Homo sapiens: one gene and its partner. The protein of the gene in region 1 interacts with the protein of each later gene in a pairwise test. Each region holds a gene or a part of one and is shown on either strand. Other genes may lie near its edges. The genes, in order: MZT1 and TRIM72.

Region 1 (12,410 bases):
CCTAAACTGCTGGCTCAGGAATTCTTGAGATTTTACTGGAGGAGAAAACTTAGTAGTTAAGTAAACAACTCTGAAGTCAGAGAGCCCAAGTTCAAATCTCAGGTCAATCACTAACTGTAAAGTTCTTAAGGTAAGTAAATTAGTCACCATAAGCTTCAGTTTCCTTAGCAGTAAACTACTAATAGTAGCATAGGATAAGTATCCCTTGTCGGAAATGCTTGGGACCAGAACTGTTTCTGATTTCAGATGTCCTAAAATTTTGGAAAATTTGCATTGAAGTTGTCCCTTGGTATCCATGGTGAATTGTTAGTTCCAGGACTCCCCATCTTCCCCACCTCACAGATACGAAGGTCCACAGATGCTCAAATGCCTTATATAAAAGGGTATAGTATTTGCATATAACCTACATGTATCCTCCCACATACTTTACATCATCTCTGGATTCGTTGTGATACCTAACACGATGTAAACGCTATGTAAATAGTTGTTATCCTGTATTGTTTAGGGAATCATGAGAAGAAAAAAAGTCTGTACATTCTTAGTACAGACATAACCATCCTTCCCCCTGTTCCCCAAATATTTTTGATCCACAGCTGGTTGAATCCATGGATGCAGAACCCACAAATACAGAGGACTGACTGTACTTGCTGACTGAGCATCCCTAATTAGAAAATCTGAAATGTTCCAGTGAGGATTTCCTTTGAGTGTCATGTTGGTACTCAAAGTATTTCAGATTTTGGAGCATGTTGGATTTTCAGATTTGGAATGCTCAAACTGTAGTAGTTATCACTGTTATAATGATAGAGGAAATAATGCCAGTAAAGCCTGTAGAACATACGGTCTGGCATGAGAAAAGTATTCATATAAATATTAGCTATTCTTGTTATTCAGTTATTTTTCTTTCTGCCATATGAAAGCCAAAGGTTTGAGGTAAAAAAGAAACTTCCCTATCTAAATAGGAGACAAGTGCTGATAGCCAAGATAATGGGTAAAAGGCCTAGACAGCATTTCAGAGATCTAAGACACGGCCCTTCCCATGACAGTCTCCGAGGCCCAGGATCAGGACCTGGAGCAAAGGTCATGCATGTTATGCTTTAGCAAAAAATTTGGCTGCATTGTGCCCATGTCCTAGGGATCTGTGGAAGTTTGGACTTGAGAGTGATTTAGGGTATCTGGTGGAAGAAATTTCTAAGCAGCCAAGTGTTCAACATGTTGCATGGCTCCTTCTAACAGCATATGCTCAGATGCATGAGCAAAGAAATAACCTAAGGCTGGAACTTATACTTAAAGGGGAGGCAGAGCATAAAAGTTTAGAAAATGTGCAACCTGTCCATGTGGTAGAAAAGAAAAGCCCATTTTCAGGAGAATTCAAGGGGGCTGCAAAGCAACCACTTGCTAGAGAAATTTCTGAATCTAAATAGAAGGCAAGTGCTGATAGCCAAGATAATGGGTAAAAGGCCTAGACAACATTTCAGAGATCTAAGAGGCAGCCCTTCCCATTACAGGCCCTGAGAACTAGGATAGAATGGTTTTATGGGCCAGGCTCAGGGCCCCGCAGCCCTCCACAGCCTTGGGACATTGCTTCTTGCATCCCAGCCACTCTGGCTCCAGCCATGACTCAAAGTGGCCCAGGTATAGCTTGGGACACGGCTTCAGAGGATCCAAGACATAAGCCTTGGTGACTTTCATGTGGTGTCAAGCCTGTGGGTGCACAGAGTACAATGGCTGAGGCTTGGCAGCCTCCATCTAGATTTCAGAGGATATATGGAAAAGCCTGGGTATCTAGGCAGAAGCCTGCTTCAGGGGTGGAGCCCTCATGGAGAATCTCTACTAGAGTAGTGCAGAGGGGAAATATGGGGTTGGAGCCCCTACACAATGTCCTCACTGGGGAACTGCCGAATGGAGCTGTGAGAAGAGGGCCACCGTTCTCCAACCCCAGAATGGTAGATCCACTGACAGCTTGTACCCTGAGCCTTGAAAAGCTGCAGACACTCAACAATGCCAGCCCACGAAAGCAGCCATGGGGGCTTAACCCTGTAAAGCCACAGGGGCAGAGTTGCTCAAGGCCTTGGGAGCATACCCCTCCCACCAGTGTGTCCTGCATGTGGGACACAGAGTCAAAGGAGATTTTTTTGGAGCTTTAAGATTTAATGACTACCCTGCTGGGTTTGGAACTTGTATGGGGCCTGTAGCCTCTTTCATTTGGCTGATTTACCCATTTTGGGATGGGAATGTTTACCCAATGTCTATAATCCCATTGTGTCTTGGAAGTAAATAACTTGTTTTAGATTTTACAGGCTCATAGGTGGAAGGGACTTGCCTTGTCTCAGAACTTTGGACTTTTGAGTTATTGCTGGAATGAGTTAAGACTTTTGGGGACTGTTGGGAAGGCATGATTGTATGTTGCAATGTGAGAAGAACACATGAGATCTGGGAAGGGCCAGCGAGGGAATGATAGTTTGGATGTGCATCCCCACCCAAATTTCACCTTGAAATGTAATTTCCAATGTTGTAATCTCCATTGTAATCTCCAATGTTGGAGGTGGGGCCTGGTGGGAGTTGACTGAATTCATCCCTCATGAATGGTTTAGCACCATCCTCTTGGTGCTGTACTCGCTAAAGTGAGTGAATTCTTAAGAGTTATGGTTACATAAAACTGTGGCACCTCACTCTCTCCCTCTCTTGCTCCTGTTTTTGCCATGTGACATGCCTTCTCCCCCTTTGTTTCCATAATGATTGTAACCTTCCTAAGGCCTCTCCAGAAGCAGATGCCACTATGCTTTCTATACAGCCTGCAGAACTATGAGCCAATTAAACCTCTTTTCTTTACAAATTATCTGGTCTCCGGTTTTTTTGTTTTTGTTTTTTTTTAAGAGGAAGTCTTCCTCTGTTGCCCAGGCTAGAGTACAGTGGTGTGAATCTTGGCTCACTGCCACCTCCGCCTCTTGGGTTCAAGTGATTCTCTTGCCTCAGCCTCCCGAGCAGCTGGGATTACAGTGCCTGCCATAATGCCTGGCTAATTTTTTTATTTTTAGTAGAGATGGGTTTCACTATGTTGGCCAGGCTGGTCTTGAACTCCTGACTTCAAGTGCTCTGCCCACCTCAGCCTCCCAAAGTACTGGGATTACTGGCTTAAGCTATCATGCCCGGCAGGTATTTCTTTATATCAATTCAAGAATGGACTAATACAGAGTCTACCATAAAAGTGAGGATAGTAGTTACTGGAGAGGAGAGCAAGAGAGAGGGGTTAGTGACTGGGGAGAGGGCAGAAGGGGGATTATCTGGTGCTGGCAGTGATGGTTGCATGGATATTCTCTTTATGATACATTTTAGCTCTACAAATGTGGTTTACCCTTTTTAGTTAGATTTAATAATCAAGAGATTTTAAAAAGCACAAAAACAAACCTAAAGAATAAGAACTCATTGGAAAATAATCTGAAAGATATGTAAATTGCATGTTTTAAATAGTTGATTTCTTAAAGGTAAGAAAAAAGAGAAGTCACTTTGTATCAGGTATCAGAAGGTTTTATTTGTTTGTTTGTTTTTCCCCCCATTGACCGTCTCTATGAGCCCATGTTTTGGACAAGTTTTAAGATGAACTAACTTAAAGTTTCAGTATTCAAAGTGAGTTAGTGCTATATAAAAAGGGAAATAAAATCACAAGCTTTTAAATCAGAAAGTCTGTGGAAGACAGAATAGGACATGTTTTTAGTTGCCAATCTGAGCAATTAAAACGTGGTTAATTTGAATTGGAAAAAAGGTGGCCCTCTGGGAACCTGGTGGCAGCAGCAGTCCCATGGTCTCTGAGGCGCTCTTGGAGTCACTTTTTCCTTTTCTTGAAGGATAACACATGGGCCCTCAGCTGAGCAGCTCTATCAGCCAGTTTCCTGTCTAAACAATCCCACTAATCTGATAGCCTTCTTTCACTTCATCCTGTCCAAGCTGGCAGTGTTTGTGTTGAGATGGTTGACTGGCTCTATCACATACCTAATGTCTTCACAAAAGTGTAGCCACACTCTTAGCCCTGTCTCCAGAACATGTTATTCAGACAGGCTGAGAATTTTCTAAATTCTCAGATGCTAGTTCCTTTTCTCTTAGCAGGTCCTTACTCGATTGCTCATTTGTGTCACATTATTAAGCAGCAAAAAGAAATCAGGCTACACCTTCCACAATTTGCTTGGAAATTTCCTCAATGAAATATCCAAGTTCATTGCTTACATATTCTATTTTCCTTCCAACAATAGAACACAATTCAGCCACAATCTGTCACTTTCTTTTTTTTTTTTTTTTTTTTAGATGGAGTTTCGCTCCTGTTGCCCAGGCTGGAGTGCAATATCGCAATCTTGGCTCACTGCAACCTCTGCCTCCTGGGTTCAAGCAATTCTCCTGCCTCAGCCACCCAAGTAGCTGGGATTACAGGCATGTGCCACCACGCCTGGCTAATTTTGTATTTTTAGTAGAGATGGAGTTTCATTATGTTGGTCAGGCTGGTTTTGAACTCCTGACATCAGGTGATCCACCCACCTTGGTGTCCCATAGTGTTGGGATTACAGGCATTAAGCCACTGTGCCTGGCCCATTCTGTCACTTTCTAACAAAGACCACCTTTCTTTTAGTGTCCAATAAATGTTCCCCATTTCCATCTGGGTCTTCACTAAAAGTGCTTTTAACATTTACATTTCTAGCAACATTCTGATCCTAATGTTAGTCTCGAAAAAACTCTGAAGCTTTCTCTACAGTTCTTTTCTCTTCTTTCTGAGCCCTCACCAGAATTGCCTCAACATTCACAGTTCTACTAACAGTTCCTCTTCAAGGAAATCTAGTCTTTTTCTATCAAGCACCTTAAAACTTTCCAGTCTCTATCCAATACCCAATTCCAAAGCCACATCCTCACTTTTAAGTATTTGTTACAGCAACACCCCACTTCCCAGTACCAAAATCTGTATCAGATTTCTGGGACTGCCATAATAAAGTAACCACATATTAGGTGGGTTAAAACAACAAAAATCTATTTACAGTTTGAAGGCCAGAAATCCATACCTACTATACATATTTAACCAAGGCGTTAGCTGGGTCATGCTCTCTGACAGCTCTAGGGGAATATCCTTCCTTGCCTCTTTCTAGCTTCTTATGGCCACAGAAAATCCTTAACTTTCCTTGGCTATTTGTGTCCAAATTTCTCTTCTAAGGCCACCAATTATTGGGTTAGGATCTACCCTAATCCAGGATGACCTCATCTTAATTTGATTATATCTGCAAAGGCATTATTTCTAAATAAGGTCATATTCATTGGGACCAGGGGTTAGGACCTCAACATGCCTCTTCTGGAGCAGGCACAATTTTACTCACCAAATAGCACAATTCTAAAAACAGACTTCTGGGAAAACATAACATGGTCCATGGTAGTAGTAATTTTTCTTTTTTTTTTTTTTAGACGGAGTCTCACTCTGTCACCCAGTCTGGAGTGCAGTGTCGCCAACTTGGCTCACTGCAAGCTCCGCGCCTCCTGGGTTCACGCCATTCTCCTGCCTCAGCCTCCCAAGTAGCTGGGACTACAGGTGCCCACCACCACGCCTGGCTAATTTTTTTGTATTTTTAGTAGAGAATGGGGCTTTACTGTGTTAGCCAGGATGGTTTCGATCTCCTGACCTCATGATCCGCCCAACTCAGCCTCCCAAAGTGCTGGGATTACAGGTGTGAGCCACTGCGCCCGGCCTAGTAGTAGTAATTTTTATGATATGAACATACACTATTGAGCTCCTGGTCTTCTAGTGGTGTTGCATGTTAGTTTAACCTTGTTTAACCAGGATGTTTCCCATAACTTCATCATTAATCATTTTTCTAAATAAAAGCATCTTTATTTAGAATGAACTAATAGGAATCTCCAACCTTCAGTGCTTCAGTAGCCTTGCGAAGCTCCTTAATAACCGATGATAAAGCTTCTGGGTTAATTCCTTGTTCACAAAGCCGTACACAAATAGACAGAGTTTCCATATCTAAGCCAGTATTCAAAATTCTTGAAATCTCAAGCAGAACTGAAAAAAGATACAAAAAAAAAAAAAACTTAAGGCTTACAGCATTTAAAAATATGCATATAGTACTTTCATTAATTTATATATCACTGCACAATACCAAGGAATTAGCATAGCATCCCAGGTTTTGGAAATCTGCATGTAATACTTTCTTGCCTTTACTTAGTTTTAGAAACTTAAATATAAATATAAACTTACACCTTCCCTTCACATAACTGCCTTTTACATCTTGCTATATATTCTAGCACTTGTTTAATATCTAACATGTATCCACCATACTTAGGATAATTCTGAACACTTGCTTATTTTTTAGTATTCTTTTAAAATGCAGTTTAACTAGTCGCATATTATTCCATTTTATGGAAACACTATACTTAACTACTCTGTTACTTTAAAAGTTAGGCTGCTCTCATGTTTCTCTCATTAAAATAATATTGGTAAGAATCTGTACATACTAAATTTTATTTCATTAGGATAAATTTCTAGAAGTAGAACTGCTCAGTCAGTAATATACATATTTAATTTGCTGAATTGACATACAATAGTCAAAAAAAGGTAATGTACATATTTAAGGCTTTAAAAGTGTTTAGAAACTTTTATAACAATTTGACAGCGTAATCATGTCTGTTGAATCTAATAATAAAAATGAAACCTTATATTTTTTAAACTTCATTTGTATAGTACTGCATTTTATTGTAGTTGATAGAACTCATTGTCTTTAACATGAGAAGCACAAACAGAGAAACTTGGTTTCCAAAGTGATTTTCAGAATCCCTTCCATTACAGGTTGTAAGTACACCGGTTCCACTGAATTTTGTTTTAAGATTGCTTCCCAGAGAGTATTTAGAATATTTTAAGTCAACTGTCAACATATTATCTATTGTTTCCTATATCATTTCCCCTTGGCATTATGCTTAGAAAATTATTCCCCATGAAAAGATTATATCCACCAGTATTCTCTTCCAGCACTTTGAAGTTTATTTCCCAAAACCCCCCATAAGTATTTATCTCCCTAGAGTTTGGGTGGAAAATAGGATCTAACTTTTCCTCCCAGAAATGAGCCAGTTGCCCCAGTAAAATTTATTGAATGACCTAAGTTTTCCCCACCCAGTTGAGATGCCACCTTTATTCATAGTAAATTCCCATATACTTACAAATTTGTTACATGTCTATCTTTTGTAAGGGCAACCATTTAATTTCTAACTTTATATTGCATGTAGTAGGGTAAACATTCCGTTGTCATCTTTCATTTATATAAGCCATTTTATTCTTCGGATGAACTGAACATTTTTCATCAATTCTAAAAACAAATTCCAACTGGATTCTGATTAACTGTATAAAAACTACATTATTATTTTGGGAAGAATGGACAAGTTATCAATATTTAGTCACCCATTAATTTAAGTCTAAGTCTTTCTGAAAATTCTTATAGTATTTATCATGTTCATGAGATAGGTCCCTCCCATTTCTTCCATATCAGATATTCACTTTCATCCCTAGAAGTTCAATTTGAGCCGGGCGCAGTGGCTCACGCCTGTAATCCCAACACTTTGGGAGAGCAAGGTGGACAGATCACCTGAGGTCGGGAGTTCGAGACCAGCCTGACCAACATGGAGAAACCCCGTCTCTACTAAAAATACAAAATTAGCCAGGCAAGGTGGCGCATGCCTGTAATCCCAGCTACTTGGAAGACTGAGGCAGGAGAATCGCTTGAACCCGGGAAGTAAAGGTTGCGGTGAGCCGAGATTGCGCCATTGCACTCCAGCCTGGGCAACAAGAGCAAAACTCTGTCTCAAAAGAAAAAACAAACAAACAAAAATAGCAGTTCAATTTGAGTCTTAAAAAAAAAAATGTCTTTCATGCCTCTACTAAACTTTTTGGAGATATGGAGTATAGTTCTGATGCCCTTGTCTGCTAATTCTAACATCTGTGTGATCGGGGGGGTGTTCGTTACAATTGACTGAATTTTTCACATCATGGGTCATACTGTTCTGCCTTGCATATCTGGTAATCTTTGATTGGATGCCATGTACTTAGAATTTTACTTAGGTACCGGATAGTTTTGTATTTCTAATTCTTGAGCTTTATAATGAGATACCGTTATCTGGAAATGGTTTGATCCTTTCGGATATTACTTCTTAGATCTGTTAGGCAGGACCAGAGCCCTGTTTAGGATAGGGCTAATTATTCCCCTTATGATTGAGGTAAGAATTCTGAGTACTGTATCCAATGTCTTATGAATTACAAAGATTTCCATTCTGGCTGGTAGTTACAGGCACTATCCTCAGCCCTGTGTAAGCACGGTGCACGGTTCACTCTAATCCTTCTAGATGGTTCCCTCCCAGCTTTCTGAGTACTTTCCTCACACATCTGCTAATCAATGCTCTGAATACTTAAGGGGGACACTTCTACAGATCTCCAGCATTCTTTCTGTGCAGTTCTCCCCTCTCAGGTACTGTTATTCAAACTCTACCTGCCTTGGTCTCCCAGGTCTTCTAAACTCCTCCTACTCACTTCAGTGTGTCCACTGGGTTCTCCCTGCTATACTGAGGCCTGGAACTCTCTGAAGGCAGTGAGCTGGGGCAACCCAAGAAATCACTTTGCTTGTTTCCTGTCTCTAAGGGATCACTGTACTCTGATGCCTGATGTCCAGTGTCTTGAAAACCATTGTTCTGTATGCTTTACCTGAGTTTTCTTGGTTGTTTCAAGTAGAAGCATAAATCTAATCTCTGTTACTCCATCTTGGCTGGAAGATGACAGCTCTTCCCATTTTCATTTCTTCAGTTTTGATATTCCAATTTACTGATACTTTGCTCTTCAGCTGTATCCAGCCTGTTATTCATATTATCTGCTGAATTTATTTCAAATTTATTTCAGTAGCTTTCAAGATTTCTAATTTCTAATTTCTCACCATAAACACTTGTTTTATAACTAAATGCTTATTTATAGTGACAAATTTCACAGCTGTTGTTCCTGCCTTCGTCTATTTAAGGCTATATTCTTAAACTGTATTTGAGATTGCTCTATTATCTCTATTTCTTGGAGTATAAGCAAGCAGCAAAAGACAGTGGTTAGGAGTGTGATCTCTAGAGCCAGACTACCTGTGTTCAAATTCTAGCTGTAGTATTTAGTAGGCAAGTTACTCTCTCTGTGCCTTATTTCACCATTCTCGAAAGTGAGGATAATAAGAGTACCTGTTTTAAAGGATTAGTGTGAGAATTAAAGGATACACTTAGAATGGTATCCATTTGTTTTGCTGACACTGCCTTGCAGTCCTTTGGAATGGTGCTTGGCATACGGTAGGGCTCAATAAAAAAGAGTTCCCTGTTACTACCACTTTCCCTCTTTTTCCTTTTCCATGTTAGTTGCTCATGTTTTTCATCTACCTTAGGTGCTTTGTCATTCTTGGCTGAAAACTCATCTTCCATAGATTTATTTTAGGTGTCCTGGACTGGTGGCCCATTCTAAGATAGGAAGCCGTACCCTAGCTTTAGGCCTCTAGATCAGGCCTTGTAGTATTTTTGGTCCAGATCCAAAAAACACATGGATGGTGCTTCTCAATCTCTGGCTGTGACAAATGGCACATTTCTGACTCCCAACTTCAGTGAGGCAGGGTAGCATGCTTTGTCAGATTCTATTCCCGACAATCCCCTGCTGTGGTTCCCATCTGCTCCTTTCTTTTGGGGGGAAACCTCTCTCTTCCTAATCAATGGAGACTTCCCTTCTTGCTTTTGAACAGGTCTATCCTGATAATTATATTTTCTTACTATTTCCTATTTTTTTATATGCTTAGAGTTTCAGCAAGTGCTCAATCTACCATATTGAATCTTCACTTTATTTTTGACTGTCTTCACAAATGGATTCTACTTAGCCCTTGTACATTCTAAGTGGTTACCATCAGTATACTGGAACACTACATATTAAACTTTTTAATCACCAGTCACCTTGATGAATTCTATGATGCTTCTAACAGTTTTTCAGTTGATTCTCTCCCTTCTCTCTCCAGTTTCCAGTTTGTTCTCTTCATGGTAGACCCCCCCACGTATAAAGGCTATGCTTATTCCTGACTTCATGCCTTTGTTCTTGCTTTTCTCCTCTGCCTTTTATCCTCCCTTCATATAACTCAATGCTGTTTTCTTAGTCCATCTCATTTGTGGTTTCTTCTTTAAGCCTTCTTTTCAAATGGACACCTATTTTTACTTCCTATTTTCACAAATCGCCTGTAATCAAAAACTATTTCTTTAGTGCCTACCATATGATCAGTACAGGTTGAACACTCCTAATTCCAAAATCTGAAATGTGAAATGCCGCAAAATCCAAAACTTATTAAGTACTGACATAACACCGTAGTGGAAAATTCCACACCTCATATAATGGATCAAAGTCAAAATGCAGGTGCACAATACACAGTTCATTCAGCATCCCTGAGGGAAAAAACCAAAATTACCTTCAGGCTATGTGTATAAGGTATATATAAAACATACAAGAATTCTGTGTTTGGACTTGGGTCCCATCCCCAAGATATCTCATTATGTATGTGAAAATATTACAAAAAAAAAAATCTGAAATCCAAAACATGGTCCCAAGGTTTTTGGATGAGAGATAATCAACCTCTAACTATATGTATTTTGTGCCTATTATGCTACTGCTGCAAATACAGTTATGAACAAGGTATATATGGTCCCACTCCTCACAGATATTAGTCCAGGAGGAGAGATAGATATTAAAGTAATAACTGATTCCAGATATAAGTAAAATAAATAAAGAGTGGAATACTTCTGAAACAAATTACAAGGGCATCTTACCAAGTTTGGAAGGACACAGTGTTTAGCAAAGACTTGTCTGAAGAAGTGACAATTACACTTAGACATCAAAAGTGAGTAGAAATCAACCAGACTAATACAGAGGCAGGAGGAAGGGTGATGGTTGAGAGCAAAGAAAACAGCTTGTGTGATGGTCCCTACACTAGAGGGAACTTGGTAAATTCAGACCTGAACTGCTATTGTGAAGGCAATGTAATTAACGGGGTGAATGGGTATAAAATATGAGGTAAGTCCTAGTGAAGATCTTAGAACTGTGGAAAGCTACTGGATGATATAAAATAGGAACATAAAAAAATCAAACTTGCATTTTAAGGACTTTTTGGCTGAGTATCAAATGAATCTTTAAAAAGTCCAGTTATATCACAATTTTGATAAAAGACTGGTGGGTAGGATGAACAGGAGATATTTAGCCAACCTGAAATGAGTCAAGAATTGAAAGGGCTTAGTGAAGAACAGGAGGCAGAGGAGGTGAGAAAGCAAGACTGACTTCTAGATTTCTTTCTCAAATGTGCAACTGGATTGATGGTGGTAGCATGGACTGTTTCGCTGGTACTGCCTTGCAGTGCTAGTCAAATGGAATCTATATACCATAGATTCTCTTAACTCCTTTCTCTATAACGTGTTTTTTTTTTTTTTTTTGAGATGGAGTCTAGCTCTGTCACCCAGTCTGCAGTGCAGTGGCGCAATCTCAGCTCACGACAACCTTCGCCTCCCAGGTTCAAGCGATTCTCCTGCCTCAGCCTCCCAAGTAGCTGGGATTACAGGCACCCGTACTTACTACTAAATATATATATATATATACATATATATATATATATATATACACATATATATATGTAAAGTGGTGCTACAGGCCGGGCACAGTGGCTCACGCCTATAATCCCAGCACTTTGGGAGGCTGAGGCGGGTGGATCACCTGAGGTCAGGAGTTCCAGACCAGACTGGCCAACATGGTGAAACCCTGTCTCTACTAAAAATACAAAAATTAGCTGGGCGTGGTGGCGGGCGCCTATAATCCTAGTTACTCCAGAGGCCAAGGCAGGAGAATTGGTTCCCATCCCCAGCTTCAACCTGGGAGGCGGAGGTTGCAGTGAGCCAAGGTCGCGCCACTGCACTCCAGCCAGACTCGGTCTCAAAAAAAAAAAAAAAATAGTGCTATGATAAAGCCTCTCATAAGGAATAATTATCAAAATTAAAATTCAGATGCACAGGACGATTTTAGAGGAAAATAAAAATTAAGGTATAAAAAGCAATCAATAGAGAGTACCTAACATACCAAAAAGTTGAAAAGCAAAAGAGGCAACCATACACAGTGGGTTGCGAGGGGGGTGTTGTTGAAAAGGCACGACTATTTTAAGCGTGTAGAATTTTAGGGATATAAGGATGAAAGCAGAGATCTCATGCAGACCTTATTCTAAATTGGCAGAGATAGTTCTTTTCAGAGTGAGGTGCACAGATAATTTATTAATAGAAAGTTAGCCTGCTTCCTTCCATGTCTTTAACAAAATCCTTTCATTTCATGATCAAAATGCAAATGTAGCCAAGAGTTCTGCAAT
Region 2 (12,410 bases), on another chromosome or scaffold:
TTTGAGATGGACTTTTGTTCTTGTAGCCCAGGCTGGCATGCAATGGTAGAATCTCGGCTCACCGAACCGCCTCCTGGGTTCAAGCAATTCTTTTCCCTCAGCCTCCTGAGTAGCTGGGATTAGAGGCACCAGCCACCATGCCCAGCTAATTTTTGTATCTTTAGTAGAGACGGGGTTTCACCATGTTGGCCAGGCTGGTCTTGAACTCCTGAGCTCAGGTGATCCACCTGCCTTGGCCTCCCAATGTGCTGGGATTACAGGCATGACTCAACCGTGCCCAGCCTCATTATTGTCTTCTTTTAAGAAATTCTTTTTTTTTTGAGATAGAGTCTCACTTTGTCACCCAGGCTGGAGTGTAATGGCATGATCTCAGCTCACTGCAACCTCCGCCTCCTGGATTCAAGTGATTCTCCTGCCTCAGCCTCCCGAGTAGCTGGGATTACAGATGCCCACCACAACGCCCAGCTAGCTTTTGTATTTTTAGTAGACATGGGGTTTTGCCATGTTGGCCAGGCTGGTCTTGAACTCCTGACCTCAGGTGATCCACATACCTCGGCCTCCCAGAGTGCTGGGATTACAGGCGTGAACCACAGCACCTGGCCTAAGAAATTCTTTTAAGAAATTGCCACCGCCACCCCCACCTTCAGCAGTCACCATCCTTATCAGTCAGTAGCCATCGACATTGAGGCAAGACCCTCCACCAGCAAAAAGACTATGACTCACTGAAGGCTCAGATGATCCTTAGCATTTTTAGCAATAAAGTATTTTTAGGCCAGGCGGAGTGGCTCACACCTGTAATCCCAACACTTTGGGAGGCTGAGGCAGGTGAATGACTTGCGCCCAGGCATTTGAGACCAGACTGGGCAACACGGTGAAATCCCATCTCTACTAAACTTAAAAAAATTAGCCAGTCATGGTGGCGTGTGCCTGTAATTCCAGCTACTTGGGAGGATGAGGTGGGAGGATCACCTGAAACTGGGAGGTCGAGGCTGCAGAAATCACACCACTGTACTCTAGCCTGGGTGATGGAGTGAAACCCTGTCTCAAAAATAAATAATAATAATTTTAAGAACTCACATTTTTGAGAGTCTGAAGGCCTATACAAATGGCCAGCACCAATGCAAAATTTTGTGGACATCTCTTTTTTTTTTTTTTTTTTTTTCCCAAGGCAGAAGAATTTTTCTTAGTACAGAACAAAATGAAAAGTCTCCCATGTCTACCTCTTTCTACACAGACACGGCAACCATCCGATTTCTCAATCTTTTCCCCACTTTTCCCCCCTTTCTATTCCACAAAACCGCCACTGTCATCATGGCCCGTTCTCAATGAGCTATTGGGTACACCTCCCAGACGGAGTGGTGGCCGGGCAGAGGGGCTCCTCACTTCCCAGTAGGGGCGGCCGGGCAGAGGCGCCCCTCACCTCCCGGACGGGGCGGCTGGCCAGGCGGGGGGCTGACCCTCCCACCTCCCTCCCGGACGGGGCGGCTGGCGGGGCAGAGGGGCTCCTCACTTCCCAGTAGGGGCGGCCGGGCAGAGGCGCCCCTCACCTCCCGGACGGGGCGGCTGGCCGGGCGGGGGGCTGACCCCCCACCTCCCTCCCGGACGGGGCAGCTGGCCGGGCGGGGGGGCTGACCCCCCCACCTCCCTCCCGGACGGGGCGGCTGGCGGGGCAGAGGGGCTCCTCACTTCCCAGTAGGGGCGGCCGGGCAGAGGCGCCCCTCACCTCCCGGACGGGGCGGCTGGCCGGGCGGGGGGCTGACCCCCCCACCTCCCTCCCGGACGGGGCGGCTGGCCGGATGGGGGGCTGACCCCCCCAACTCCCTCCCGGACGGGGCGGCTGGCCAGGCGGGGGGCTGACCCCCCCACCTCCCTCCCGGACGAGGTGGCTGCCGGGCGGAGACGCTCCTCACTTCCCAGACGGGATGGCTGCTGGGCGGAGGGGCTCCTCACTTCTCAGACGGGGCGGTTGCCAGGCAGAGGGTCTCCTCACTTCTCAGACGGGGCGGCCGGGCAGAGATGCTCCTCACATCCCAGACGGGGCGGCGGGGCAGAGGTGCTCCCCACATCTCAGACGATGGGCGGCCGGGCAGAGGCGCTCCTCACTTCCTAGATGGGATGGCGGCCGGGCAGAGACGCTCCTCACTTTCCAGACTGGGCAGCCAGGCAGAGGGGCTCCTCACATCCCAGACGATGGGCGGCCAGGCGGAGACGCTCCTCACTTCCCAGACGGGGTGGCGGCCGGGCAGAGGCTGCAATCTTGGCACTTTGGGAGGCCAAGGCAGGCGGCTGGGAGGTGGAGGTTGTAGCGAGCCGAGATCACGCCACTGCACTCCAGCCTGGGCACCATTGAGCACTGAGTGAACGAGACTCCGTCTGCAATCCCGGCACCTCGGGAGGCCGAGGCTGGCGGATCACTCGCGGTTAGGAGCTGGAGACCAGCCCGGCCAACACAGCGAAACCCCGTCTCCACCAAAAAACTACGAAAACCAGTCAGGCGAGGCGGCGCGCGCCTGCAATCGCAGGCACTCGGCAGGCTGAGGCAGGAGAATCAGGCCAGGGAGGTTGCAGTGAACCGAGATGGCAGCAGTACCGTCCAGCTTCCGCTCGGCATCAGAGGGAGACCGTGGAAAGAGAGGGAGAGGGAGACCATGGGGAGAGGGAGAGGGAGAGGGAGAGGGAGAGCGACATCTCTTGTTTTAGCTTGAAAATTCACACAGATTCTGTACTCTATGTTTGTTTTAATGGGAACGTGACATCTTGATTTTTACTTTTGGTTAAATTACCCAACTTTCTCACCACCACCAGTATCAAGAAGAAGAATATTGGCATAAAGTCGATACTCCAAGATGCATCATGCTTCTGTGGACCGGGGTCCTTTGTGGTCAGACTGTCATGCACCCAGGGGATGCGTGAACCCAGTATAAGAGGCAACCTAAGCCGGACGCGGTGGCTCACGCCTGTAATCCCAGCACTTTGGGAGGCCGAGGCGGGCGGATCACGAGGTCAGGAGATGGAGACCATCCTGGCAAACATGGTGAAACCCCGTCTCTACTAAAAATACAAAAAAATTAACCAGGCATGGTGGCGGGCGCCTGTAGTCCCAGCTACTTGGGAGGCTGAGGCAGGAGAATGGCGTGAACCCAGAGGGCGGAGGTTGCAGTGAGCCGAGATCACGCCACTGCACTCCAGCCTGGGAGACAGTGAGACTCCATCTCAAAAAAAAAACAAAACAAAACAAAAGAGGCAACCTAGTGGGGCTCTCGTTGTTGTGAGATCCAGGGTTGCGAAGATCAGTGAGATTCTGAATAGAGAGCTATTGACGCATAATAAGGTCTCAATAAATTTTCTTTTTTTTCCTTTGAGACAGAGTCTCATTCTGCAGTGGGATAATTTAGGAATCAGAGAGACCAAGAGGTTGAGGAGGATACTTATTATTTATTATTTAGTTAGGTGCACTGGCCCGGTCAGATTAACATCCAAAAAGACTGAGCCCTGAACAAAGAGTCCGGTTACCTTTTTTTTTTTTTTTTTTTGAGGCGGAGTCTCGCTCTGTCACCCAGGCTGGAGTGTAGTGGCGCCATCTCGGCTCACTGCAAGCTCCGCCTCCCGGGTTCAGGCCATTCTCCTGCCTCAGCCTCCCAAGTAGCTGGGACTACAGGTGCCTGCCACCACGCCCGGCTAATTTTTTGTATTTTTAGTAGAGACGGGGTTTCAACATGTTAACCAGGACGGTCTCGATCTCCTGACCTCATGATCCGCCTGCCTCAGCCTCCCAAAGTGCTGGGATTACAGGCGTGAGCCACCACGCCCGGCTCCGGTTACCTTTTAAGCATTTTGTGGGGCAGGGGGAGATCTGTGCAGGGGGAAGCATATTACAGAAGCAAGAAACAAAGACAGTTATTCAGTTGAGACATGCATTACATCATTTTTTACTTTTCAAGGAAAAACATGTTTTATGACTTGAGTTTATCTGCCTAGTGACCTTGCAGCTGCACAGCTAGAGAAACAGGGTCTTCACAATGCCTGGGAAAGGGAGAGAGATAAGGCTCACTATCCACAGAAAAACAGGCAGTTAATTTTTAAAGGACTTTAGCTCTTTCTCTTCCTCAGGGTGAATGGGGTTTTCTTACATACAACTGAGTTTTTGCTTACACATTCTTTAATTTCTTTTAATTCCTGTTTTAACTCTCTCACCCAGACTGGAATGCAGTGGCCCGATCTCAGCTCATCGGAACCTCTGCCTCCCAGGTTCAAGTGATTCTCCTGCCTCAGCCTCCTGAGTAGCTGGGATTGCAGGCATGCACCACCATGCCTGGCTAATTTTTGTATTTTTAGTAAAGATGGGGTTTCACCATGTTGACCAGACTGGTCTCGAACTCCTGACCTCAGGTGATTCACCCGCCTCAACCTCCAAAAGTGCTGGGATTACAGGCGTGAGCCACTGCACCTGGCCACGATAAATGTTCTTGCTTGCAGTTTTATCATGGCCTTGGCAGGTTCAAGTTTGCTATTATGCTACCTAAAGATGTCAGGAAACACAGGAAATGTCTTGGCAGCCAGTTTCTGGGGGTTTCCAGCGTTCCCGTGGAGAGGAGGGACTCACGGAGGGGACGCTGGTGCTTTAGAACACATGTGCTGGAGGAACTCCTTTCTCTGTTCACATTTCACCTTCCTACATCCCCAGGGAGACCCTGCCTGGGTCAGGCAGCCCCACCCGACAAGGACCACCTGGATTACGCAGCTTTTCCCACAAAGCCCACCTCACTCAGTCAGCCATGGGCCATTTCCTTCAATGCATGCAGCTCAAGCTGGGGCAACTATACGCAGAAAGAACCTGTGGCAGCTTCGAAAGAAAGTTTCCTGATATAATTCCAACAAAAGGCAGCATACATTACTCAGCTCTGCAGGGAGACTAAAGCCAGCCCGGGTCCCGGAAGGCACAGGAGTGTTTGGACGGTGGCTCTGGCTGCCGGAGACGCCACAAGAGCCTTCCCTCCCTCCCTCCCACACGAACAGCAGACTTGCGACACGGTCTGATGGCCCTCCCCATCTTCCCTCACATGGGCATCTTCCCTCCTAAAATCTCTGCCCATTTAATCCTATCTTGGCATCTGCTTCTCAGAGTACCCATTTCCTCAGAAGGAGGCTTTGGGTCTCAGATACCACCATCCCTCCAGACACCATGGCCTGTGTGTAGACAATTCAATGCCGTGGGCTACACATGGTGGAGGAGCTGCTGGGCGATCCAGAGAGGAGAGTAACTGATTCTTCCTGGAGGCCTAGAAGGTCAAGAGAGGACAGGAAATGGTGGTGTTTTGGGAGAGCCATGAAGGATAAGTGGGAGGGAACTGACATTCCTAAAAAAGAAGTGCAGGGGCCAGGCCCGACAGCTCATGCCTGTAATCCCAGCACTTTGGGAGGCTGAGGCGGGCAGATCATTTGAGGTCAGGAGTTCGAGATCAGCCTGGCCAACATGGCAAAACCCCGCCTCTACTAAAAATACAAATAAAAATGAAAAAACTAACCTGGCGTGGTGGTGGGTGCCTGTAATCCTAGCTACTGCGGAGGCTGAGGCAGGAGAATCACTTGAACCTGGGAGGCAGAGGTTGCAGTGAGCTGAGATAGCACCATTGCACTCCAGCCTGGGCGACAGAGCAAGACTGCATCTCAAAAAAAAAAAAAAAAAAAAGGAGGTGCAGAGACCCCAGCAGTTCAGTTCAGCATAGCCAGAGTGTAGACATGCACAGGGCGGTGATCCAAGGTGAGGCTGGACACAGCCCACAGCCCACAGTCTACAGGGTGAGGAGCAACACAGGAGACCACAGGTCCCTCCCTCACTGTGGCCAGTCCTTAGCCTGAGCAATGACAGAGAGTTCAGTGACAGTCAATGGACAGCAGCCTTTCCCCAACACTAGGATCCCAAAGAGCTTTTGTTATGTGGTTTTATCTTTCAATATTTGCCCTGTTAGATATTAAAACAGAGAACTTTTCTTTTTAAGATGAAGCTGGGGCTGGGCGCGGCGGTTCAAGCCTGTAATCCTAGTACTTTGGGAGGCCGAGTTGGGGGATCCCCTGAGGTCAGGAGTTCGAGACCAGGCTGGCCAACATAGTGAAGCCCCTGTCCCCACTAGAAATACAAAAATCAGCTAGGCGTAGTGTCACCTGCCTATAGTCCCAGCTACTCGGGAGGCTGAGGCAGGAGGATCACTTGAACCTGGGAGGCAGAGGTTGCAGTGAGCCAAGATCACACCACTGCACTCTAACCTGGGTGACACGGTGAGACTCCATCTCAAAAAATAATAATAAAATAAAAGATGAAGCTGGGCTGGGCTCAGTGGCTCACACCTGTAATCCCAACACTTTGGGAAGCCAAGATGGGAGGATCGCTTGAGGCCAGGAGCTCGAGACCAGCATGAGCAACATAGTGAGACCTCATCTCTACCAAAATACAAAAAATAAAAAATAGTCAGGCATGGTGATGGGTGCCTGCCATCCTATCTACTCAGGAGGCTGGAGTGGGAGGATCATGTGAGCCCAGGAGGTCAAGGCTGCAGTGAGCCACAATCACACCATTGCACTCCAGCCTGTGCGACAGAGCAAGACCTTGTCTCAAAAAAAAAAATTGTTTTTTAACTAAAAACAGATGAAGCTGGAAGGCCAGCCTGTAATCCCAGCACTTTGGGAGGCCAAAATGGGTGGATCACCTGAGGTCAGGAGTTCGAGACCAGCCTGGCGGGCACCTGTAATCCCAGCTACTCGGGAGGCTGAGGCAGGAGAATCCCTTGAACCTAGGAGGCGGAGGTTACGGTGATCACACCACTGCACTCCAGCCTGGGCGACAGAGCGAGACTCTGTCTCAAACAAAACAAACAAACCAACCAACAAAAAAAATGGCAGAACAGCTCAAATGCTAAGCCAAAGACTGGGGGCTTTATCCTGTAGGCAAGAGGGAGTTGTTGAAAGTTTTGAGCAACTGAGTCCCGTGACCACATTTGCATTTTTGGAAACATTACCAAGTCAGGATTAAAGGCTGGAGGGCAATTAGGAGGCCTTGCAGTAGGTCACATGTCTTTTCATGTGGATTTAATGAGGAAGGAGTCAGAATATAACAGTTTTATTAATGGTGTTGGATTTTACAACCAAATAATCCCTTAGCTATATTGTTTTATTTTCTAACATGAAAGAGCTTCTACCGTTAATCCTCTCTTCTGTCTCCTGAAGCCAGGGCTCCACAGGCCTTCCTCTGGGAGACACACCCAGGTGTGCCGCCTTCCCCTGCCAGATCCTCAGGCCTTTCTTACCCAACTCACAACTTCCCTTTCACCCTTAGTCCCATACCCACCATCTCCCGAGAAAACCTCCGCAATGGGCTGCCGGGGCCCCAGGCCCTTCCACCCATCCCGCCAGCACACCCTCCCCGTGAAAATGAGTGACCCCAGGCCAGCGTCTTCCCTCAGGAGAGAAGCCTGTCTGGATCCCCAAAGGCCTCTCCCTCCAGGGAAGAGGGACTCTCACTCTGGCCTCAGTGGTTACTCCAGAGCCCAAGAAATGCCCTGTGCGCTAAAACCAAAGAAGGTGTGAACCAGCAAGTAAGTGGGGAGCGGCCAGTTCTGGGACATCTAGTTGGGGGCCTTCTCTTCCCCATGAGCAGCAGGGACCAGTGTGACCTTGGCATCAGGCTCTTTCTCTTGGCTGGCTTCCTCAACGTTCAAGACGCTCGATAAACATATCCCAGAGGCAAAGCAAGTTAAGTCGAGGGTTGTTTATTCACCTAGAATCAGCTCCAGCCATTTTCCAATGTCTTCTTTTTGTTGTTTTTCTGGTTTTTGTTGCAACAGGGTCTCACTATGTTCCCCAGGCTGGTCTCAAACTCCTGGCCTCAAATGAGCCTCCTGCCTCAAACTCCCAAAGTGTTGGGTTTACAGGCATGAGTACCCAGCCCTTAAGTGTCTTTGCTTTGGTTTATGTTTGTTTGTTTCCTTCCACTCCTGGTGCAAACCTTACATGTTTTTGACTGGGGAAACATATTTTGGACCTATGCCTCTACACTGACAGTGAAGAGCCCAATGGGTTGTGCACTAGGTCAGGGCTTCCCGCAGCGTCAGCCCCTGTGGCCAGCAGCGTCACCTGGGAACCTGCTAGAAATGCACATTTTTGGCAGGGCGTGGTGGCTCACACCTGTAATCCCAGCACTTGGAAGGCCAAGGCAGGAGGATCACCTGAGGCCAAGAGTTCAAGATCAGCCTGGGCAATGTAACGAGACACCATTTCTACAAAAACTAAATTAAAAAAAAAAAAATGAGCATTTTCAGCCAGGTGCAGTGGCTCATGTCTGTAATCCCAGCACTATGGGAGGCCAAGGCGGGTGAATCACTTGAGGTCAGGAGTTCGAGACCAGCTTGGCCAACATAGTGAAACCCCTACTAAAAATAAAAATAAATAGCCAGGTGTGGTGGCGGGCGTCTGTAGTCCCAGCTACTTGGGAGGCTGAGGCATGAGAATTGCTTGAACCCTGGAGGCAGAGGTTGCAGTGAGCCGAGATGGCACCACTGCACTCTAGCCTTGAGTGACAGAGCAAGACTCTGTCTCAAAAAAAAAAAAAAAAAAAAAAAAAAGAAATAAAAAAAAGAAATGAGCATTTTTGACCTGTCCAACCTACTAAATCAGAAACTTAGCACCCTATGCTTTAACAAGTCATGGCTAAGGGCTTTAAAAAGGTGATTTTAATGCATGCCTAAGGTGGAGAACTAAGGAGAAGGCTTTTGGGTAAGGTGAATCTGGAGCGGGGGACCCAAGGCCTAAGGAGGAGGGGAGTGTGAGGCAAAAGGAGCCCCTTATCTACAGGTTCTCAAGCTCCTCCCATCAATCCCCCAACCTGGCCCTGTCCCTCCCTCGCTCAACCTTAGTTTCTTCCTGGAATTCTCAGGCCTCCTGGTTCCCAAATTCTGATTTCCCCACTGACCTGACTCCAGATCTCCCTACCCCACTGGGTCTTGTCCCCAGCGTCACTCCAACCCCTCACCAGCAGTCCCCAGGCCATGCCAACCCCCACACTTTTTTTTTTTTTTGAGACAGAGTCTCACTCTTGTCACCCAGGCTAGAGTGCAGTGCCGCAATGTCTGCTCACTGCAACCTCCACCTCCTGGGTTCAAGCAATTATCCTGCCTCAGCCTCCCAACTAGCTGGGATTACAGGCGTATGCCACCGCGCCCAGCTCATTTTTGTATTTTCAGTAGAGAGGAGTTTCACCATGTTGGCCAGGCTGGTCTTGAACTCCTGACCTCAGGTGATCCACCCGCCTCCGTCTCCCAAAGTGCTGGGATTACAGGCATGAGCCACCAAGCCAGTCCTACCCCACGCTTGTCAGTATTCTGGGAGATCCCCCAGTTCCCAGCCCCCTGGGCCCTGGCAACCCGCTCCCCACCCTTCTCCCGTCAGACCCGACCAAGGAGACCTAAGCTTCAACCCAGGCCCCCGCGCCCCTCCACTACCCGTCCGGCGGCTCAGGCCTCGGCGCCTTCGGGACCCACGAGCAGCAGCGGCTGGGCATTCTTGCCCTTGTCGTGCCAGCACACGTCGAAGAAGGGGTACACGGGCCTGGGCAGGCGCTCGTGGAAGGCAAAAAGCGGCACGAGCGCGTCGGCGTCGCTGGCATCGTAGAAGGAGAGGACGCCGTCGCCGAAGCTCAGGTAAAGGCCAATGCGCGTGGGCCGCCTCTCGGGGCTGCGCAGAGCGCGCGGCTCCTTGGCCTCCACGTGTGCCTCCAGGATCTTGCCCTCGCGCAGCCCCAGCAGCCACAGGCCCTGCGAGGGCACCGCGTGCAGGCGCCCGCGGCGGGGGGCCTCGGCCGCGATCACGCCCAGCGCCCAGCGCGGCTTGTCGCCAACATCCACCTCCCAGTAGTGCTCGCCCTCGGAGAGCTGCTGGTGCGCCACCACCGCCACCGCCTTGTCGAACTGGCGCGGGTCCTCCCCGGCCGGCGGCGCCTTCTGCTCCGAGCACTCCACGCGGCGGCCAGAGGAAGACACCACCAGGCTCGGGTGCGCAGAGCTCGGGTCAAAGGTCAGCTCCTCCAGCGCTGCCAGAGAGAACACGGTCAGAAAACCCTAGGTTTCTGCCTCGCTGGGGTCTTCTCCCAACCAATTGCAGGCCAGCTTTCTCTCCCCTAATCCTCTTGGCATCTCTGCTCACTGGGCTTGGGCCACAAGATCACACCTGGCTCAACTTCAGTTTGCCCAGCTGTGAGATGAGGCCATGATTGCTTCCCTCCAGGGTTGCAGGCAGGCCTGCATTTTCTTTTTGTTTTTGTTGTTGTTATTGTTGTTGTTTTTTGTTTTTGTTTTTTGTTTTTTTGAGGCGGGGTCTCACTCTGTCGCCCAGGCTGGAGCGCAGGTGCAACCTAGGCTCACTGCAACTTCCAACTCCCAGGCTCAAGCAATCCTCCCATCTCCCATCTCCCAAGTAGCTGGGACTACAGCCACGTGCCACCACACCTGGCTAATTTTTTTAAGTTTTTGTAGAGACAGGTGTTCTCACTATGTTGCCCAGGCTGGTCTCCAACTCCTGGGCTCAAGTGATCCTCCCACCTCGGCCTCCCAAAGTTCTGGGATTACAAGCGTGAGCCACCGAGCCTGGCCAACAGGACTAAATTGATACAAGGCATGGGACTCACCATCTGAGGCCCAGACAAGGCCCAAGGCCCAAGGTCAAGGAGCCTGATCTTCACATCAGCCTAGACCCAGTCTCTGAGCCTTAGTTTTATCTTGAATAAAATGAGGCTGTCTGCATTCCCACCTGCGCTGAGGCAGGAAGGGCTGCCCCAGCAATGTGTATGTCCCAGAGCTCTGTAACCTGCATCATCCAGCTCTTGGGGGGAGGAACTGAGCCCTTGGGCCTCCCCAGCCACAGGCCGCCAGAGTCACTCTCTGACCCAGGCCAGTCCCCAGGGTTCCAGGAGCTCTGCAGAGCCTCAGTCCCCAATTGGCAGGATTTATCATCTCCACCGTCCAGAGAGGGGCAGAGACTGACCAAGGATCACACAGCAAGTCAGTGGCTCAGACCTAGGCCCCAGCGTCCCGTGCCACCAACAGCAGCAGCATTTTCATGTCAGTCACCCACTGCAAACCCCATGCTCTCAAAGGCCCTCCTCCCAACACAGGTTAGAGGACTGCAGCGGCAGTCCAGAGGCAAAGGGGCAATGGGTACCTCCTTCAGTGGCCTCCCCAGTTGGGACTGGGAGGCCTCTCCAGGGTGGCTAGGGCCTCCCATCAACTGCCTGGTCACACACAAACCTGAGCCAGTCCCTCCCGGTACCTGGCATCAGAGCCCGGAACATCTTCCTCCACACCTGGAATTTGAAGTCATCTGAGATAATTGGCAGCTGGATGTCCAGACGGGCGGGTGGGGGAGACTCTGCCAGGATCTTCTGCAGCCTGGGGGTGGGGAGGGGAAGGGGAGGCATGTGTGAGGGGGGAGGACAAGGGCTGGGGGGATTCCAGGATCTCCCCACATCGCACCCCTGCTTAAAACTCTTCCTTTGGAGTTTTGGTTTGGGAAGATGAGAAAATTCTGGAGATAAACACTGGTGATGGTTGTACAATGTGAATGTACTTAGCACCACTGAATTTAAATGCACACTTAAAAATGCTTAAAATGAGCGAGGTAGAGTGTAGTCCCAGCTGCTCAGGGAGGCTGACTCAGGAGGCTCACTGGAGCTCAGAAATTTGAGTCCAGTCTGGGCAACATAGCAAGATCCTGTCTAAAAAAAAAAAAAAAAGAAGAAGAAGAAGCTGAAAATTGTCAATTTTATGTTACATGTATTATTTTACCACTGTTTATTTGGTTTTGGTCTTTTTTTTTTTTTTTTGAGATTGAGTCTGGCTCTATCACCCAGGCTGGGGTGTAGTGGCATGATCTTGGCTCACTGCAGCCTCTGCCTCCCCAGTTCAAGCAATTCTCCTGCCTCAGCCAACCAAGTAGCTGGGATTATAGGCGCCTACCACCATGCCTGGCTAATTTTTGTGTTTTTAGTAGAGGTGAGGTTTTGCCATGTTGGCCAGGCTAGTCTCGAACTGCTGACCTCAGGTGATCTGCCCGCCTCAGCCTCCCAAAGTGCTTGGATGACAGGCGTGAGCCACTGCACCCGGCCCAACTACATTTTCTTTTAATCCTTCTGTTGGGATAAGGTCCAAGCCTCTCAGCTTCGCCAGTGTGCACACACCTACTACCGCAGCTTCCTCTTCCCTCCCACTCGCCAGCCCTCTCGCTGGCTGTCCCCTCTCCCAGCAATGCCATTCTCCCAGCAACACCCTTCTCCCAGCAATGCCCTTCTCCCAGCAACACCCTTCTGCCAGCAACACCCTTCTCCCAGCAACGCCCTTTTCCCTGCAATGCCCTTCTCCCCACAATGC

Evidence for each region.
Region 2: the proteins of MZT1 (region 1) and TRIM72 interact in binary tests that used the Homo sapiens proteins (3 or more experiments, as listed by UniProt).

The regions. Positions count from the first base shown.
Region 1 is NC_000013.11:72,713,064-72,725,473, forward strand, and holds part of MZT1 (mitotic-spindle organizing protein 1), read right to left. Parts: intron 6,035-12,410; coding exon 5,889-6,034; intron 1-5,888. UniProt on the Homo sapiens protein: Required for the recruitment and the assembly of the gamma-tubulin ring complex (gTuRC) at the centrosome.
Region 2 is NC_000016.10:31,221,849-31,234,258, reverse strand, and holds the end of TRIM72 (tripartite motif-containing protein 72), read right to left. Parts: intron 11,433-12,410; coding exon 11,314-11,432; intron 10,079-11,313; coding exon 9,504-10,078; 3' UTR 2,722-9,503; downstream 1-2,721. UniProt on the Homo sapiens protein: Muscle-specific E3 ubiquitin-protein ligase that plays a central role in cell membrane repair by nucleating the assembly of the repair machinery at injury sites.